Linked DNA regions of Homo sapiens. The protein of the gene in region 1 interacts with the protein of each later gene in a pairwise test. Each region holds a gene or a part of one and is shown in the gene's direction. Other genes may lie near its edges.

Region 1 (3,926 bases):
ATGCAAAAAGGACTCAACTTTTTTTTTTTTTTTTTTTGAGACGGAGTCTTGCTCTGTCGCCCAGGCTGGAGTGCAGTGGCACCATCTCGGCTCACTGCAACCTCCGCCTCCCAAGTTCGAGCAATTCTCCTGCCTCAGCCTCCCAAGAAGTTGGGGTTACAGGCGCCCGCCAATATGCCCGGCTCATTTTTTTTTTTTTTTAAGTTTAGCAACTCAGGCCGGGCGGAGTGGCTCACACCTGTAATCTCAGCACTTTGGGAGGCAGGCGGATCACAAGGTCAGGAGTTCAAGACTAGCCTGGCCAACATGGTGAAACCCCATCTCTATTAACAGTACAAAAATTAGCCTGGCATGGTGGCTTGTGCCTGTAGTCCCAGCTACTCAAGAGGCTGAGGCAGGAGAATCGGCTGAACCCGGGAGGCGGAGGTTGCAGTGAGCCGTGATCTCGCCACTGCACTCCAGCCTGGACAACAGAGTGAGACTCTGTCTCAGAAAAACTTTAGCAACTCAGACCAGGCATGGTGGCTCATGCCTGTAATCCCAGCACCTTGGGAGGCCGAGGAGGGTGGATCACTTGAGGTCAGGTGTTCGAGACCAGCCTGGCCAATGTGGTGAAACCCCATCTCTACTAAAAATATAAAAAAATTAGCCAGGCGTGGTGATGCGTGCCTGTAGTTCCAGCTACTCAGCCATATGAGGCAGGAGAATCGCTTGAACTCTAGGGGGCGGAAGTTGCAGTGAGCCGATATCAGGCCACCGCACTTTAGCCTGGGCGACAGAGCGAGACTACATATCAAAAAAAAGAAAAAGTATTTAAAAGTTTAGCGACTGCCCTGCCATTTATGCAAAATTGAATTTCCCCCATGATTTGAAACACTACCTTTAGTGTGTTCGGTTCTATTTCTGCAATTTATTTCCTTAGTTTGTCTCACTAGCCAAACTTTTATATCATATGTTGATTAAATCATATTTTATCATATTTTGATAATTGATAAGGGGAGTACCTCTGTTCATAGTTCTTTTTCCAGAATTTGCTCCATTATGCTTACATTTTAATTTTTTCAGATGACCTTGAACATTATCATCAGGCCAAGTTCCAAAATATAAATAATTTTAGTATTTTGACTTGGAACTCATCATTTTTAGATCCTAATCCTCATATGGTCACAATCGTTATATGAGAAGAAACTAATGTTTGATTCCTGTTGTTTTTTTCCATCCTTCTGAACTAGCCCTTTGGCAGTTGTAAAGACTTCTCAAGGATAGGTATTAGGTTGATGGCCTTAAGTGTTATACAGCTTTTTTTCTTGTCTACTCTCCAAGCCTAAAGCTCAGAATGTTATGAAGAAAAGCCTGAACTATACTCTGATTGAGGGTCATGTTGATTATCATTTTGTATTCTCAAGGTCAGAATACTGTTGGAGAAACTACAGGAACTTTTTGCCCTTAACACTGCCCTAATGTCCCTGCAAAATAACCGAAATAAGGACAATCATAATAATGGTTAGCCAGTATTATTTGGTGTTTACCTTGTGCCAGGTAAAGCGCTTTCTTTACACGTGTTACTCATTTAATAATTACAGCAGCCCTATACTATGAGTACTATTGTCTCCATTTTACAGATTGGGGCACAGAGAATTTAAGTGGTTTTCTCAAGGTCCACAGCTGAGCCAGGATTTGAACACAGGTAGTGGGCTGCAGAGCCTGTGCCCTTAAGCACTGTGCTGTTTTAGATTAGGCTTTCAGAAAGACACCTTCACAAGAGTGTTTTAAGGCCCAGAAGATGTAAAACTGGTAGAGAAAGAAGTACAATGGTGTTATTTGAACTGCTTTAAGAAAGTTAACTTGCCTGTAGCTAGTTTGGGCCTTGCTCTTAATCTACCTGTATCATCAAAAGGTAAATCTCACTGTAGTATAGGAGGGAGCATAATGAAAAAGGCTAAAAGGGACCTCTTGTATAGATTTTTTGTTTTGATAATATGACTATGTATTTTTTCTTTTTTTTTTTTTAACCAAGAACCAACATTGTATTCATCTGTTTAAAAAATAGTTAAGAAAACGATTAAGGCTAGGGCATAGTACTATTTCATTACTAATTCAGTTTGGACCAGAGAAGTACTTCAAAGAAGAATGGTAAAAATATTTCCCTATCTGCCAATTAAAAGTGATTTGTGGAATCTCTTTATAAATCATTGTGTGCTTTACATCAACACTATTTTTCCCATTTTTATTGTCTTCTATTTCTTATTTTTCCCATTCTTATGTTTTATAAGCTGATGTTAGCTTTAACTGGTGGTTAATAAATATAATATCATTTTGTGAGGAAATTAGTAGACAGACAATGCCTGAAAGTTTTTCCATGGAAGAAAACACCATGGACTTGGCAAATACAAGGGGAAGTAGTTGAGTCATTTATGAAGCCTGACAAGGGTCAAATGGTTGCTTAACTGGTTCAAAGGTAAATGATATCTATGAAAAGTTATAACAACACCATACAGTGAGGGAAGGTGATCTTCCTATTACAAAAGAATTCTTATATAACATGGGAATTGAAGGAGCATACGAACACATAATTAAAATATGGTCAAGACAGCTGGGTAGAACAAATCAGTTGCCCAAAGACCACATTTCCAGTGCATAATAAATCAGATATATGTCTGGATATGGATATAAAGGAATAGAAATAAGACCAACAAAGTGTTTACTAAATTATTTCTGTTTCCTTTTCTTTTTCTTTTTCTTTTTTTTTTTGAGACAGAGCCTCGCTATGTTGCCCAGGGTGGAGTGTAGTGGCCGCAATCTCAGCTCACTGCAACCTCCACCTCCCGGGTTCATGCCATTCTCCTGCCTCAGCCTCCCGAGTAGCTGGGACTACAGGTGCCCACCACCACGCCCGACTAATTTTTTGTATTTTTAGTAGAGACTGGGTTTCACTGTGTTAGCCAGGATGGTCTCGATCTCCTGACCTCGTGATCCACCCACCTCGGCCTCCCATAGTGCTGGGATTACATGCGTGAGCCACTGCGCCCCGCCCTATTTCTCTGTTTTCTATCTGAAGTGCTCCTGAATTAGTAGTAATTGTAACTGGTTTATTCCACATGTAACTCCTAGTATGCCAAGAAAATTAATCTAGCTTGATTATGATATCATAAAACAAACACATTATATATAGTTATCCCTCCGTATATGAGGGAGGTTGATTCCAGGAACCCCTGAGAATACTTAAATCTGCACATACTCAAGTCCCACAGTTGGCCCTGCAAAACACTCATAGATGAAAACTCAGTTTTAACAGATCACAAACTCTCTTGAAACTAAAATAAAAATATATTTTAAAAAGTCAGGCTTTCCTGTCTACAGATTTTACATACCTTTTCTATCCGCATTTGGTTGGAAAAAATCCACAAAGTGGACCGGTGCAGTTCGAGGCCGTGTTGTTCAAGTGTCAGCTGCACTTAGAAACCCGTTTTATTGGCCGGGCGCGGTGGCTCACACCTGTAATCCCAGCACTTTGCGAGGCCGAGGCGAGTGGATCATGAGGTTAGATCGAGACCATCCTGGCTAACATGGTGAAACCCCATCTGTACTAAAACTACAAAAAATTAGCCGGGCGCAGTGGCGGGTGCCTGTAGTCCCAGCTACTCGGGAGGCTGAAGCAGGATAATGGTGTGAACCCGGGAGACGGAGTTTGTAGTGAGCCGAGATCGCGCCAGCCTGGGCGATAGAGCGAGACTCCATCTCAAAAAAAAAAAAGAGAAACCCGTTTAATTTTCATCTTAATTTCCAGACAGCTATTGGTCACAGTACGGTATTCATTACCTTACATAAATTTCTTTTTTTTTTTTTTGAGATGGAGTCTTGCTCTGTCGCCCAGGCTGGAGTGCACTGGCACGATCTCGGCCCACTGCAATCTACACCTCCTGGGT
Region 2 (3,926 bases), on another chromosome or scaffold:
CTCTGATTTGTGGTAATATATAGGCCATATTATTGCATAGTTGACCTTTACCTTACAGTCATCATCTTTCATCCGTTGAAAGAAAATGGGAAAAAATGGAATTTAACCTATTAAATTAATTTTTCATTTAATTTGTCAACAGAGTCCTTCAGCCAAACCAAGGACAGAATGCACCTGTTCATAGGCTACTTAGTAGACAAGGGTAAGAATGCCACACACGGGTATTGAAAACTACGGAAACCAAGATTAGATTTGAGAGGGAAAAATAAATCTAGTGTTCTTTATGTAAAGGATAATGGTTTTTCAATGGGATTTTTTTTCTTTATAGCATTGGGAAAGATATTTTAAAGTTTTGTCTTCAAATGTAACCCTCTTGGTGTACTGTTGTGTATTCTAATTACTGTCTTAAGTTGGGATGTTTTTACTTTTCATTTCATACCATTTTACTCATAAAGTATTTTAAATATCCATATAGTAAATTCAGCATCACCGAAGTGATTCTCCAACAGAGTATGACTCGTGCTTATAGTCTCCTGCTGAAGCCAGAGTTTAGCTTTCCTTACTGTGCGCATGCATGAGACTTCAGTTCTTTTCAAGCTTATTTGTGCTTTGGACAGTTGATGCAATGTGATTGCTTTCTTTGAATTTTGAACATTTAGACCTTAATGCCAGTGACTTATTAATTTTTTTATATTCAATTAGAACCCCTAAGACATCAGTGAAGGGGGTTGTGCAAAATAGACAGAAGCCTTCACAGAGCAGAGTGCCTAACAGAGTGCCTGTTTCAGGTTTGTAGAAAATAAATTCCTGAAGCCCATTCAATAGAAGGAAGTGCACAAGCTGCCCCATAACTCAGGCCATAGAAGTGGAATAGATTGTCTTTCCTTGCCACCATAATTTTGGCATATTCACAGTCATCTTATTAGTGTTCTTTGGTCTTAGCATTGTATGGCAGTCAGGAAGTCTTAGTAAAAGTGTGATTCCAGTCTTCATTTCTATAATATTTCTGTGGAAAGCACCTTGTATTTTTCATTCTGAAAAAATTGTAGAATTTGCCATGCTTAATTCAGAAAACCTTTTTATTTAATGAATAAAAGATAACGATCATCTCTGGTGCTAAGTCTGTGCATTGTCTGTTCAGCTTGGGGAAGTGTATCTGCACATAAGGGGATAAACTTTCTCCCTCAGACTATAAGATCACATGTGAATATGCCAGTGGGAGGAGGGCTTCATATTTTGCTCAGTCCAAAGCTTGAGCTAAATCTCTCCTTATGTTCATTATTTGAGGATTAAGAGCTAAACTAAAAACTGTATTTTAAAATTCTGTTTATGGTGGCAAGAAGACAAACTCATTCTTGAGCAAATTCAAAGCTCTTAACCAAATGCTTTAATATTTTTTAGGTATCTTTGTTAAGACACTTTGATTAAGCTCACTTAAAAATTATGTGATCCATTTAAAAATACTTTCCAAATGTTGTGCTTTAACTATACTGCTTTCTAGACATTTACAACAAACCTAAATTAATCACCAGGCATTGAAGATTAAACCTTTAATCAATTTTAATCTTTCCATTAATATACAATTAGGCAAATTTTAGAGCTTTATTACTAAGTGATTTCCTTCAAATTAGGAGGGAACAAGCTATTGGTCGTAACTTTGAAATGATGGCTGACCTTTTGTATGTATGTAGTGAAGGTAATTCATAGTGTCACACATATATAGGATAATTTAAAAGATCATCTTTGGAAATCATTGTGAGTGACAGTTAATGGAATTGTCTTAAAGGATTACATAGCTGAAGATACTGTTTACTCCAGAGGCAGTCAGAATAAGCTAGTTTGAAAGATAACCATTTGAAAGGACTCAGACCAAACACCAAACCTGTGGAATTTTAAGACATTTTCTGTTTTTCTCATGTTAGTATTCTATATTGCACTGAAACTTAGCAAGTTGGAAAATCATTGAGGAATTAGTATTGTTTTGCCTGATACCAATTTGCCACAGTGACTACTCTCCATGTTCTTTTCTCATGCATTTCATCTCCACTATTTGTCACTTGTGAACTTATAAGCAAAATAGCAAGTACTGTTTTTATTCAGCAATACTCAACAGTATAAAGGATGTATAGTCAGTCACTGAAGTTAGTAACATACAATGAAGTTCATTATTTTGAACTATTGAGGTTAAATTGCATTGCAACATACTTATTAATACAAATGAACTTAACCCTTGAATTAATATGTATCTAAACAAGTACAAAAGTCTGTTGCTGTTGTTTTCTAAAGATTTACTTATACATGAGTGCATATTTAGACAATTGAAAGAAACTAAATAATTGTGTTCTTTTTTTTTTTTTGAGACAGAGTCTTGTTCTGTTGCCCAGGCTGGAGTGCATTGGTGTGATCTTGGCTCACTGCAATCTCCACCTCCTGGGTTCAAGCCATTCTTCTGCCTGAGCCTCCCAAGTAGCTGGAATTACAGGCGCGTGCCACCATGCCCAGCTAATTTATTGTATTTTTAGTAGAGATGGGGTTTTACCATATTGGCCAGGCTAGTCTCGAACGCCTGACCTCAGGTGATCCGCCCACCTCGGCTTCCCAGAGCTCTGGGATTACAGGTGTAAGCCACCGCGTCCAGCCAGAATTGTATTCTTTTATATAAACTGAGAGTTTGGGATATTGGCTGGTTAAAATGCTAACTATGAATCTGAACACAGGAACTCACTGTCGCTCTTGAAAAGATTACTCTTTCCTGCTTAGAGTTTTAATGGTCTGAATTATGTTTTAAACAAATTTGAAATTATGTTCTGATTTGCTCTAAATGGAGGCAAATCCTTTGTTAAGCAATTTATAGAAAACTAACTTTTCTTATGATAGAATATCATACTCTTAGACTGAAGTAGAATTCTAAAATGTTAAAGTATGCTGCAAAGCATTTAGTTATTTATAGTTTTACAAACCTAAATTGCAATCTCTGATGTTATCGTAAGTGATCTTTGACTTACGGTTTTAAAACACATTTCTTCATTTGATGTTTTGTGCTTGACTAGAGTTTATATAGTGAAATTCAGAAACCACTAATCAAAGCAGAGTAGGAGGTGGTCATGCAAAATGGTTAAGTAAAATAACACATCAGGTGGACTTGGGTTATCAGAGTTCTTCCTTCTAGCTCTGTTCCTTAGGCAACTGCTCTCCTATGCCTCAGTTTTATTATCCTTAAAATGGTCATAACAATTTCTACCTCAGGATGATTCATATAAGGATTAAATATGATAATGTATATTGCCTAGCTCAGTGTTTGTTCCAGAGTAAAAACTCATTAAATGGTATCATTATAGAAAACCTCCCATTGAGAAGTAATACTGGTTTTGCTCTATTTTTAGGAGTATATGCAGGAAAAATCCAAAGAAAGCGGCCAAATGTTGCGACAATTTAAGAAGACAACATTCATTAGGATAAAATGGGGGGAAGGATTATTATTCATGTTATTTTCCCTGCCCAAGACTTTATTTAACCCTGGACTCCGTTTACACAGACAAAGTGACATCAGAAGGCTGAGCACTTATCTGGATCATTTGGTCAGTTTGGTAATTCCTGCTCCACACCCCTATTTTCCTCTTAATAATACGTTTGGGTGAAGACAAATTAGTGTTTAGTAATTGCATCATCTCTGTGCTTACCTATACAAACATAAGTTTATTTTATATGCCCAGATGTCTACAGAGACCCTTTTTGTAAATGTCAAGGACATTTGGATTTACTTTTACAGAATATTGAAAAGATAAGACAAATTATAAATAAGTTCTAAAACATAAATTTAATTCATCTCTGCATAGTGATTTTTGAATTTGATTCAAAGGGAAATTATTGCAGAAGAATGCCTTTCCCTCATTTTATAACTTTAAAAACTTGGATTAACCACTCAA

The links.
Region 2: the proteins of BPNT1 (region 1) and CCP110 interact in a two-hybrid assay, tested with the Homo sapiens proteins (one study listed by IntAct).

The regions. Positions count from the first base shown.
Region 1 is NC_000001.11:220,083,158-220,087,083, reverse strand, and holds part of BPNT1 (3'(2'),5'-bisphosphate nucleotidase 1), read left to right. Parts: intron 1-3,926. UniProt on the Homo sapiens protein: Phosphatase that converts 3'(2')-phosphoadenosine 5'-phosphate (PAP) to AMP and inositol 1,4-bisphosphate (Ins(1,4)P2) to inositol 4-phosphate. Is also able to hydrolyze adenosine 3'-phosphate 5'-phosphosulfate (PAPS) to adenosine 5'-phosphosulfate (APS).
Region 2 is NC_000016.10:19,547,813-19,551,738, forward strand, and holds part of CCP110 (centriolar coiled-coil protein of 110 kDa), read left to right. Parts: intron 1-142; coding exon 143-202; intron 203-702; coding exon of another isoform or gene 703-788; intron 789-3,383; coding exon 3,384-3,459; 3' UTR 3,460-3,926.